2 linked regions of the Homo sapiens genome follow. The main gene of each other region encodes a partner of the protein of the gene in region 2 in a complex. Each region holds a gene or a part of one and is shown on either strand. Other genes may lie near its edges.

Evidence for each region.
Region 1: the proteins of CDKN1A (region 2) and CCND1 are in contact, whole or in part, in a crystal structure (PDB 6P8H), measured with the Homo sapiens proteins. Residues at the interface, in NP_000380.1 of Homo sapiens: Ser15, Lys16, Ala17, Cys18, Arg19, Arg20, Leu21, Phe22, Gly23, Pro24, Val25, Ser27, Gln29, Leu30, Asp33, Cys34, Asp35, Leu37, Met38, Cys41; in NP_444284.1 of Homo sapiens: Met56, Ile59, Thr62, Trp63, Glu66, Val67, Glu70, Glu92, Lys95, Lys96, Ser97, Arg98, Leu99, Gln100, Leu101, Ile126, Tyr127, Thr128, Asp129, Ser131, Arg133, Glu136, Gln139, Met140, Leu142, Leu143, Asn146, Lys147.

The regions. Positions count from the first base shown.
Region 1 is NC_000011.10:69,650,983-69,655,085, reverse strand, and holds the end of CCND1 (G1/S-specific cyclin-D1), read right to left. Parts: intron 3,969-4,103; coding exon 3,804-3,968; 3' UTR 612-3,803; downstream 1-611. UniProt on the Homo sapiens protein: Regulatory component of the cyclin D1-CDK4 (DC) complex that phosphorylates and inhibits members of the retinoblastoma (RB) protein family including RB1 and regulates the cell-cycle during G(1)/S transition.
Region 2 is NC_000006.12:36,674,216-36,681,713, reverse strand, and holds the start of CDKN1A (cyclin-dependent kinase inhibitor 1), read right to left. Parts: upstream 3,001-7,498; 5' UTR 2,916-3,000; exon of another isoform or gene 2,775-2,915; intron 1,241-2,774; exon of another isoform or gene 855-1,240; intron 1-854. UniProt on the Homo sapiens protein: Plays an important role in controlling cell cycle progression and DNA damage-induced G2 arrest. Involved in p53/TP53 mediated inhibition of cellular proliferation in response to DNA damage.

The sequences.
Region 1 (4,103 bases), on a different chromosome or scaffold from region 2:
CTGACACGGTGCTTTGCTCTCCCGGAGCCTGGCGTCGCCAAAGGACCATGATTCATCCAGAGCAAACAGCAGTTTGCGCCAGAAGAGGGTTAACGAATGCCGGCTTTATTTATTTTCCTATCTGCAAATAACCCGGGAAGACAAACTGGTGGGGCAAGGAAGAGGGGGAAGATGTTCCCCATCAATGGGCACCGCTCACGTCACCCAGGCCGGAGCTGTTGTCTCGCGTGGTTGGAGGTGGGCTCACCCAGCCAGGCAGCCTGCAAATTATTCTCTGGAGCCTCCCGGGGACAGGACACCGCCTCCCACCTCACACACCTGTGCTGAGGGCTTCCTCCCAGTTGGGAGGGGTGTGCCTGCTCCTGGCTGGATTCTGTCCCCACCCCCGGGGATGTGGCAGTGTCAGGAGACATTCTTGGTTGTCACGGCGGGTGGCGTGACTGTCATCCCGGGGATGGAGGTCAGGATGCTGCTGAACTTCCCACAGCGCACAGGACAGGCTGCGGCCTCCCACATCCGCCAAGCCTGCCACCCTGCCCTGGTTCTAGGGCACCAGGACACGCGTCCCTGGCTCACGGCCAGCCCAGGAAGCAAAGAGGCAGGCACCACGCTGGGGTTTTACCAGTTTTATTTCTAGACTTTCATGTTTGTCTTTTTGTCTTCTGCTGGAAACATGCCGGTTACATGTTGGTGCTGGGAAGCGCCGCGGTGCAACCAGAAATGCACAGACCCAGCCGCCCGCCGCCCAGACCCTCAGACTTGCGCGTCACAGGACAGACTCCGCTGTGCCCCGTGCACTTGCCACCAGCCTTTGGCCTCTCGATACACACAACATCCAGGACTTGTGCCCTTGCCCCATCACGACAGACAAAGCGTCCCTCAAGGCCCCCGCGTGGTTCAGACAGACGCCGCAGCCAGGATGGTTGAGGTAAGCGTGAGCCGTGTTCTGGAGGGGTGGGGCGGGGTGGGCCTGTGCCCGAGATGGCCTCCGAGCACAGGATGACCCTGCCAGGGCAGGGCCCCAACCACGTGGGCCCGCAGCGGGGTGCAAATTCTTTTGGTTCGGCAGCTTGCTAGGTGACCGGGGCACACAGCACTGTGAGCTGGCTTCATTGAGATTTGGAGTCTCTTTAAATTAGCATTATGGTGTAATTAACAAAACAATAACAAACAGAACACTAGTACATAACAGATTAAACATACCCAAAACTTGAACAAATTCCAGAAGCTATTCCAATCATCCCGAATGAGAGTCCTACAGGTACAACGCCGTGGTGGCACGTAAGACACACTTGTTATAATAATAATAATAATAATTATGCAACTTCCATAGCTACACGCAAAGAATAACACAGCTGTAAAAACTACTATGATGCTACGCCCCCGATCAGATGAAGTGCCCAGCATCACAGGCGCAGGGAAGAGAAGAGGGACACAGCCTGGTCTCTGGGGACACCGGCGCGGTTCTCACGCACGCGGCCTCGGGGCCGGCCCCCGCCAGCCTGTGTGGGATCGCGCCCGCGTGTCTGCCCGCCAAAGCAGGCAGAACCTGCCCGCTGGGTCCACCATGGCTAAGTGAAGCATGAGGTATTGTGAAACAGCAACCTTTTTGGAATAGAGCAGTAATCACATTAAGTCAAAATTGATCACATAAAAAAAAAAAAAACTACAAAAAAGGCATCTGTAATACAATGTTCTAAGAGAAAACTAAAACTAGTACATGGCAGTATATGACATTGTAAAACAAAAAACTGATCCTCCAATAGCAGCAAACAATGTGAAAGAGATACACAGAAGCGATGTGAATATTTCCAAACCGTGCCTGGAAGTCAACGGTAGCAGCGCAATAAGAAAATGGAGCTGCGGCCTGTCCCCGGTGTGGGCACCGCCCCTTCCCCTCGGGAGCCTCCTCCTCACACCTCCTCCCGCCTGTCCTCCCTCACACGTCAGCCTCCACACTCTTGCCACCTCCCTTCAACACTTCCTAAATAAAAATTACAAGAATTACATAGCCAAGATGTGCAAATTGTCTATTTTGTCACTAAGTTTTTTAAAGGAAGGGGCAGGGGATAAGAATTCATCGGAACCGAACTTAGGTTGAGTACCCTAATTTTCCTTGCACCCATGCCTGTCCAATCAGATGACTCTGGGAAACGCCAAACAGGCTGAATCAATGTCTTTGTGTGGTTTTTTTCTTCCAGATTGTTTTTTTCTCACCTATAAAAGGATCTATCTTTAAAAATAAACTGTATTAAATCTGTAACATCAAAGGCAGAAGGTTTGTGTGTGTGTGTGTGTGTGTGTGTATCTGTGTGTTTAAATCAAGGGGAGATTGCATTTATAAATCATACTGGCCTTATGAACATCCTCTGCAATAAATATACTTTTTAGCCTTAACTATAAATTATATATTTTAGTGTTTAAAAACCTTCCGGTGTGAAACATCTAAGATAACCCTTAAAAACCACCTGTTCTCTAGGTAAACCTCTGAGGTCCCTACTTTCAAACACCAGTTGGCACCAAAGGATTCCTAAACTTCAACTTCTTTAAAGAAAAGGAAAGGAACTTATCATCCTGGCAATGTGAGAATGCAAACCTTTTTCTTCTTGACTGGCACGCAGCCTCCCAAACACCCCACCTCCACTGCCACCACAGTGGCCCACACTTGCCTCAAAGTCCTGCTTGCAAACAAGTACATGGATATTCCCAAACCATTCCATTAGAAAACTGCCCTCCCTGCACACACAACAAAAACAGCGCTATTTCCTACACCTATTGGACTGAAAGTGCTTGGAAATGGAATGGTTTTAGAATATGAAGAAGAACACAAACCAAGTAGCTGTGGGTTGAACCTGGACGTGAGCTGGCTGCAGGGCCGTTGGGTAGAAAACCAGCATCTCATAAACAGGTCACTACAAAAATAGGAAGAGTATAAAAATAGAATATATTATGTCACTATTTCGTCTTCTCTTTATAGTAGCGTATCGTAGGAGTGGGACAGGTGGCCTTTCCCGACCCTGCTACGCTGGCTGGTGCCCGACAAACCTCCACTGGATGGTTTGTCACTGGATGGTTTGTTGGGGTGGTGGTCACAGGCGCAAAGGACATGCACACGGGCACGCTACGCTACTGTAACCAAGAGGTGACTTCAGCCATGAATAAGGTGAAGAGGTTACACATCTACCTACGGAATATAATAACATACAATGACTTATAAAGTGACTACATGCATATGAGCAAGCAAAGTACAGAGATGCCTAGAACCCCACTACAGCTGTGCTTTATCAGGAAAAGCACAAGAATATGTTTTTCTACCTAAAACCCTCTTCTACTTTAAAAATGGTTTGCTGAATTTTTCTATGTTTTTAAAATGTTTTTATGCTTTTTTTTAAACACGTAAAGGATGGAACCTAATCCTCTCCCGAGACGCCTCCTTTGTGTTAATGCCTATTCTTACAACAGAGAAACAAGTACATTAATATAAAAACGAGTTGATTATTGGGGTATAAAATCCTCTATCATCTGTAGCACAACCCTCCTCCCCCACCGCTCAGGGTTATGCAAATACTATTTTTTTTTTCTCTCTCTCTCTTTTAAAGACAGTTTTTGGGTAATCTTTTTCTTTTGCTTAAGTCAGAGATGGAAGGGGGAAAGAGCAAAGGAAAAAACAACCAACAACAAGGAGAATGAAGCTTTCCCTTCTGGTATCAAAATGCTCCGGAGAGGAGGGACTGTCAGGGGAGCACCTGGGGCCGGCTCCGCCCTCGCTGCGGGTGGCGGTGGCGCCCGCCTGCCTGGCGCCCTCAGATGTCCACGTCCCGCACGTCGGTGGGTGTGCAAGCCAGGTCCACCTCCTCCTCCTCCTCTTCCTCCTCCTCGGCGGCCTTGGGGTCCATGTTCTGCTGGGCCTGGCGCAGGCTTGACTCCAGCAGGGCTTCGATCTGCTCCTGGCAGGCCCGGAGGCAGTCCTGAGAGAGAGAGGGTGGGGAGAGGTGGGAAGAGGGGGTCCTTAGAAGGGGCCTGCAGCGAGGGCCCCTTCCCAGGTGCCATGACCCGGAAGCCTTTATAAGAGCAAGACTAAGCCAAAAACTGTCCCTCGGCCC
Region 2 (7,498 bases):
GGCTGAGGCAGGAGAATGGCGTGAACCCGGGAGGCGGAGCTTGCAGTGAGCCGAGATCACGCCACTGCACTCCAGCCTGGGTGACAGAGCGAGACCGCATCTCAAAAAAAAAAAAAAAAAAAAAAAAATCTGGGCATGGGGGCGGGGGGATCACGCCTGTGGTCCCGGTTACTTGGGAGGCTGAAACAGGAGGACTACTTGAGTCCAGGATGGTGCCATTGCACTCCAGCCTGGGTGACAGAGTGCAACTCTGTCGAAAGAAAAGAAAGAAAGAGAGAAAGAGAAAGAAAGAGAGAAAGAGAAAGGAAGAAAGAAAGAAAGAAAGAAAGAAAGAAAGAAAGAAAGAAAGAAAAGAAAGAAAAAGAAAGAAAGAAAGAAAAAGAAAGAAAGAAAGAAAGAAAGAAAGAAAGAAAGAAAGAAAGAAAGAAAGAAAAAAAGAAAGAAAGAAAAGCACCTAGGGAGTTTTTTCAAAATATAGATTGCTGAGGCCCTGCCTCCCGAGACCAACTTAATCCAGATTGAAGATTCAAGCAAGTGTTTGGCACAATTCCTCAGATGGGCACTCTTGGGTTGCCAGCCAAGCGGAGACACACTGGTATGTTTGAAATGGACATTCTGGGTCTCAATACATCATAGGCACAAGGAGGAGGCGCCCGCCTAGGGCTTCATCAAGGTGCTGGATATTCCCTGGCTCTCGGGAGTTCAAGACAGGACTAGGATCTAGGCAGGCACCCTCTCCTCTTCTACCACCCCTCCTTCTCTTATGGCTCTCATAGGCCTCTCCTCCCCCATCAAAATCTGCTCTCATGCTCATAATAACTTTCAGCCCAAAGAAAACTCAGAAACGCAAACCCTTGTTTTAGAAACAATTAAAAATAGCCTCCTTTATTGGCCTTCCTGCCTTAGACTTCAGCCATATTTTAATTTCCAGTAAGAGCTCAGTGAATACTGTTGAACCTAAGGAGTGCTCCTTTGAAGGGGTGGTAATGGCATAGGGGTTGATCTCGGATGAGCCCAGGAGTAGCCGCGGCGGTTCGCGCCGGCCAGCCCCACTCCGCGGGAAAGCCTGTGTGCTATTCCCGCCAGGGCCGGGAGGGGGCGCCGGCCTCCAGGAAATCACGCGCGGAGTGGGAGGTGCGTGGGCAGAGCCTCGGACCGCTGGAGGGAGTAGTGATGAGTCAGTTTCCTGCAAGGCGCTGCTCGCCCGCCAAAACTGCTTCCACTCCGGCTGCGCGTCACCCTGGGGTGGGGAGGGGGAGAATGGGAGGGGACCGGGGGGCCGCGAACACGTCACGCTGAGCCGGCCAGGCTTCCGAAACTCCCGCCGCTGTTGGGAAACCGCGCGCTCTTGTGCCGTCTCTGACACAGACACACACACACACACACACACACACACACACACACACGCCCGCGCAGACACGCACGCGCGCGCGCGCCGGGAGCCGGCCCCTCCACCTTATCTCCACGCCCAAAGCACGGGATGAGTCAGATCCCTGGAAAATAAAAATAGACGGGAGCAACGAAAACAAAACCGCTCGCAAGTCCTCCCAGAAACGCGACGTGGAGGGAGGCAAGGAGAGGGGAAGCTGCCTGGGCGCCCCAAGTTCCTAACCCAGCTCCAAGATGCTTTTCCTCACGAAGAGGGCGCAAGTGTCCCCCAGGGGTTTGGGACGGAGAGGACGCGCTGTGGTCCGCGCCAGGCGGCGGCGCCCCAGGGGGCGACTCGCCCCCCTGCTCCGCTCAGCCCTGTAGCTTTCGGAGAGGGAATCTGGGCTAGGTCGGGAAGCCCTGAGCCCCCGAGGCAGCTGATAGAGGCCCTGAGCAGCGTCGTGCCCCCCAGACCCCCCACCCCTCAAAGACATGAACCCTCCCCGCCTCCCATCCAGGCGTGGGCTCCGCTCCCGCCCCGGAGTCCAGCGCCCCGACCCGAGGACAGGCTGGGCCGCGATTCTCCCGGCCGCGGTGGGAAAGAGGTAGAGGAGACCCTTGCCCTTCCCCGACTGACAGGCTGGTTAGAGCCCGCCCAGAGCAGGGCCGTGACTCCCCGACCCCTACAGCGCGCCGCGGAGCGGGGACCCGACGCGGTGTCCCGGACCTCCAGTGCCCGGCTTCCTTGGGAACAAACTGTTCCAGCCAAATAGGTCACTGTGCCGATGGGAGGACGGAGACCGCGAAGGGGCAGGGGAGAGGGCTTCTGGAGTCCCGCTGTACCCCATCCCGGGCGGGGTTCTGACCTCATACAGTCCGTTCCCTGGGGTCTCCTTGTCACAGTGAGTCACCTCCTCGCTAGTCCTTAGGGGACGGGTCCTGGCACATTCCCAAGGGCCAGGAAACAGCCCGCGCTGACCTCAGCGCTCAGCCAGGTGGTGGACACAGTGGCGTAAAGGACCTGAACCTGGGACCTGGGCCAGGGCGGCGCAGATTGGATCCCAGAGCCACCCGGGACCGATCCTAGACGAACTTACTCCACTCCGCTTTCCTCGCCCTTCCTGGGCCCCTCCAGGGACACGGACTTCATCCCCACGCCGCGAGCAAACTGCGCCTGGGGCCTGGAGCCAACCGCAGCCAAAGGCGAGCTCCCAGAACGGTCCCGTCCACGCCCTCCCTCGCCCCAGCTGGGTTTCCAGGGGCGGGGAGCGTGACCAGGGATTCCTGTACTTGTAATCCCGCTCTCCGCCCCGGGGTCTCCGGCACATCCCGACTCTCGTCACCCGCGCACTTAGAGACACCGTGTGCGCAAGCCGAGCGCGCACCGACCCACGCCCGTCATTCACCTGCCGCAGAAACACCTGTGAACGCAGCACACACCCGCGAACACGCATCCTCGCGGACACGCAGGGACACACGCGGGCACGCTTGGCTCGGCTCTGGGCCGCCGGCCCGGGGTCCCCTGTTGTCTGCCGCCGCTCTCTCACCTCCTCTGAGTGCCTCGGTGCCTCGGCGAATCCGCGCCCAGCTCCGGCTCCACAAGGAACTGACTTCGGCAGCTGCTCACACCTCAGCTGGCGCAGCTCAGCGCGGCCCTGATATACAACCGCCCCGCCCGGGCCCGCCTCAAGGAGGCGGGACCCGCGCTCGGCCCACCGCGCCGCCCGGGACCGCCCTCCCCGGGGCCCAGGCTCCTGGCTGCCCAGCGCCGAGCCAGCTGAGCCTGGCCGAGTTCCAGCAGGCCAGCCGGTCCCGGAACCTCGCGTGCTGCAGGAGGGCACTTCCCTCCTCCCCCAGTCCCTCGCCTGCGTTGGTGCGCTGGACACATTTCCCCACGAAGTGAGCCACAAATCTGGCTTTTTTTACTTGGAGAATGAGTTGGCACTCTCCAGGAGGACACAGCACTGTTAGAATGAGCCCCCTTTCTGGCTCACCGCTGACCCACTCTGGCAGGCAAGGATTTACCCAATGCAGCTGAAAAGATCAGGAGGATGACATTAATACATAAAAATTCATAAATTATAAAAACGATGCACCTCTCTGCAATTTCCAGAAAAGCCCCACAATATCACCTCTATTCCCACTGATCCCTCACTAGGTCACCTCTCCCAGAAGCACCTGGAGCACCTAGACACCCCAACAAAGCATCTTGAGGCCAGAATGATTTTTCAGTCCCGTTTATTTCACAGATGAGGAAATTGAGGTCCACTGAACTTAAGTATACAAAGTTGTTGATTGTCACATGCTTCCGGGAAGGAGGGAATTGGAGAGACTACCAAAAAAGGGCAACCTGATCTCCAGGGAAACAGAAGAATTGGACATTGAACCAATCTCCCTACACCCTACACTCACCTGAACAGAAGAAATCCCTGTGGTTGCAGCAGCTTTGTTGGCCAGGAAGGGGAGGATTTGACGAGTGAGTTGTCTGTCTCCTGAATACTCCCCACATAGCCCGTATACACTGCTGGGGAAACTGGGGCTCAGAGAAGTCTGGTGACCTAACTCAGATCATGCAGCAAAGAAATGACTATAGTTGGAACACAGGACTTTTGCCTCCTGCCCGGGGCTCTCTGCTTGTCATCCTTTATTTCTGTGGCTCCAAAATGACAAAAATGCCAAATAACCCTCATTTGCAGATGGTTTATGGAGATGACATAAATAAAGGACAATTCTGGAAGTGTCTACTGGTTCTTCTGACAGACACAGAAATGAGTGATGTGTCTATCCGCTCCCATCTACCTCACACCCCTGACCTCCCCTGGACTTCACCTTTGCCTCCTTTCTGTGCCTGAAACATTTGCAGTTTTGCTTTTAAAAAATTGCAGAGGATGGATTGTTCATCTGAACAGAAATCCCACTAAAAAACAGAACCCAGGCTTGGAGCAGCTACAATTACTGACATCTCAGGCTGCTCAGAGTCTGGAAATCTCTGCCCAGACATGCCCAGTCTTCTTCCTCTAACGCAGCTGACCTCGGGGAGGACAGGCTTCTTTCTCCTCTGCTGTGGGGATGGGAGCCCAGGTAGGGGTGGGAGGACACAGTAGCAGACCCCCTTGGCCTGCCTCGCCCTGGAGTCAGGCCAGGATTGTGGCTAAACCCCAGAAAGGCCACGGCACAGCCTCAGGACCCCACTCTAAGCCCCACTGCTGTCTGCACCTTCGCTCCTATACATCCAAACCATCCAAAGGGCTGGTTGTCAAATGTCCAGCAGAGGACAGGCACCTTCTCCCACTGCCTTGAAGCCCCTCTGCTTTCAGGCATTTCAAATAGACTAGACATTGTCTGTCTGTTTACTTTGGGGAGAAAATTTTTTTTAATAAAGGCTTGTAATGAATTATTTAAATTTTTGTGGTACTGAGCTTCACAATGAAATAATTCTTTTTGTTGTTGTTTTTGGGAAAGAATTTTTTTTATAACTTCTAGCTCACCACCACCACGACATTCAATATTTCTTAAGTACCTACTAAGTGTCTAGTACTATTCAGTGCTTTAAAAAAAAAAGTTTGCAACCATGCACTTGAATGTGTACCCAGACACACTCTAAGGGAGGACTTCTGCCCTGAAAAAGGCAAGGGAGCAGGCTGTTAAAAGTCACACACAGAATCTGACTCCCAGCACACACTCACACAAGCACACATGCATCAGATCCCAGCCCTGTCGCAAGGATCTGCTGGCAGATCACATACCCTGTTCAGAGTAACAGGCTAAGGTTTACCTGGGGTCTTTAGAGGTCTCCTGTCTCCTACCATCCCCTTCCTCACCTGAAAACAGGCAGCCCAAGGACAAAATAGCCACCAGCCTCTTCTATGCCAGAGCTCAACATGTTGGGACATGTTCCTGACGGCCAGAAAGCCAATCAGAGCCACAGCCTGCTGCCCAAGCATGTTCCTGGGAAGCAGGCAGCATAGGGATGGAGGGAGGCTCAGCCTGGGGGACAAGAGTGCCCAGTCCAGCCCCCTCCCCAGAGTGCGGTGGAGCAGCATGGGGTAGGGGAATGGTGAAAGGTGGAAAGCCCAAGCCTGAAGAAGGAGGATGTGAGGAAGGCTCAGTGGTGGCTGCAGAAGCTGCCTAGGAAGGGAGAGGAAGTGCTGGGAACAATGTCACCATTTCTCAGAAAGAGACTGGGGAGTCCCAAATAGGGGCAGTCAGCTTTCAGAGGAATTCACCTTCACACAGGCTCCCAAGAAGTGAGACCCCAGAGAAGAGGCGGAACAAAGATAGAACATTATTGAGCAGAGGCAGCCCTGGCTTTTTGTTTTCATTTTGTTTTTTTGTTTTGTTTTGTTTTTTGAGACAAAGTCAGCAGTGGCACAATCTCAGCTCACTGCAGTCTCCGCCTCCCAGGTTCAAGCAATTCTGCCTCAGCCTCCCGAGTAGCTGGGATTACAGGCATGCACCACCATGCCCAGCTAATATTTGTATTTTTTTTTTTGCACAAAAAGTTGGATTTATTGTTTCTGACAAGTGGTTAGTAATTTTCAGTTTGCTCATGTTCCTAGCATCACAAATCTGAAGTACAATTTTGCTTCTCAATTAAAAATATATACTGGCCGGGCGTGGTGGCTTACGCCTGTAATCCCAGCACTTTGGGAGGCCGAGGCGGGCAGATCACAGGGTCAGGAGTTTTGAGACCAGCCTGGCCAATATGGTGAAACCCCGTCTCCATTAAAAATACAAAAATCAGCCGGGCATGGTGGTGGGCACCTGTAGTCCCAGGTATTCAGGTGGCTGAGGTGGGAGAATCGCTTGAACCTAGGAGGCGGAGGTTGCAGTGAGCTGAGATCATGCCACCTGCACTCCAGCCTGGGTGACAGAGTGAGACTCCGTCTCAAAAAAAAAATATATAAATCTTTGTGTAAAATGAAAAAAAAATCAAGGCATAAAAATTTCATTGTGTTCTACATTTTTAAATATAAATTGCCTCCTTTAAAATATTTTCATCCATTCATTCAAAAACCTTTTAACTTCAACTGTCCAATTTAAGATAGAGTGAAGACATTTTTGAGTATCTGAACTAAGCATTGTCTTGACTGAAACGAAGTAAGAACTCTATGAGAGTCCTTGTGGGCCTCCCGGTCATGCCTTTCCATAGATAGGGAACCTCATCTTTGTTGGTCATCACACCTGCTATGTCTAAATGTGCCCACTTAGGATGAGTCACGAATTCTTTCAGGAATGCCGCAGATGTACATGCTCCCGCAGATCTATATTTTCCAATGTTGTTAACATCAGCCAGCTGGCAATCTACAACCTGTCTTGTACAATGTTTGAAGAGAGGCATCCTCCAGACACGGTCCCCTGTTTCAATGCTGGCCTCGAAGAGCTTGTTCCAGAGCCAGGATGAATTGGTAAAGACCCCAGTGGCACCTGACCCCAAAGCTACATCTATGACACCTGTTAAGGTGGTGGCATTGAGGATGACCTTCGGGTTAAATGTGTGCACGTAACAGAGCGCATCAGCCAGTATGAGCCTCCCCTCAGCATCAGTGTTACCAACCTGGATGGTCTTCCTGTTCCTGGCTCTAACAACATCCCCCAGCTTGTTGGCCTTGCCGCTGGGCATGTTTTCACAGAGGGGCCAGACCTATAATATTAATGGGCAAACTGAGATTTGCAGCAGACACAATGGCTGAGCATATAGTTGTAGCTCCTCCCATGTCGGCCCTCATGAGGTCCATATTTGCAGAAGCCTTGATGGAGATACCACCACTGTCAAAGGTAATTCCTTTCCCAACAAACAAGGGGTGGTTTGTCTGCATTGGGGCTGCCTATGTAGTGAATTTCCAAGAAGACTGAGGGCTCGTCAGATCCTTTGGCCACACTGAGGAATGATCCCATTGCCTGTTCCTCAATCCAAGACCTGGGTCTGATATGAAACTCGGTTTACTACTAGCGCTTTTGAGATTCTTCTCAATAATTTCGGCAAATCTGGTTGGCATCATCTCGCTGGCTGGCGTCTCCATCATGCCAAGTTCTGCCCAGAAGCAAACAGGACTCCTTTCTGCCAGGCCTCCTGATCCCCAGTTCCATAGAGCTTCACCGACATAGCCATCTTCTTTTTTTGCTTTAG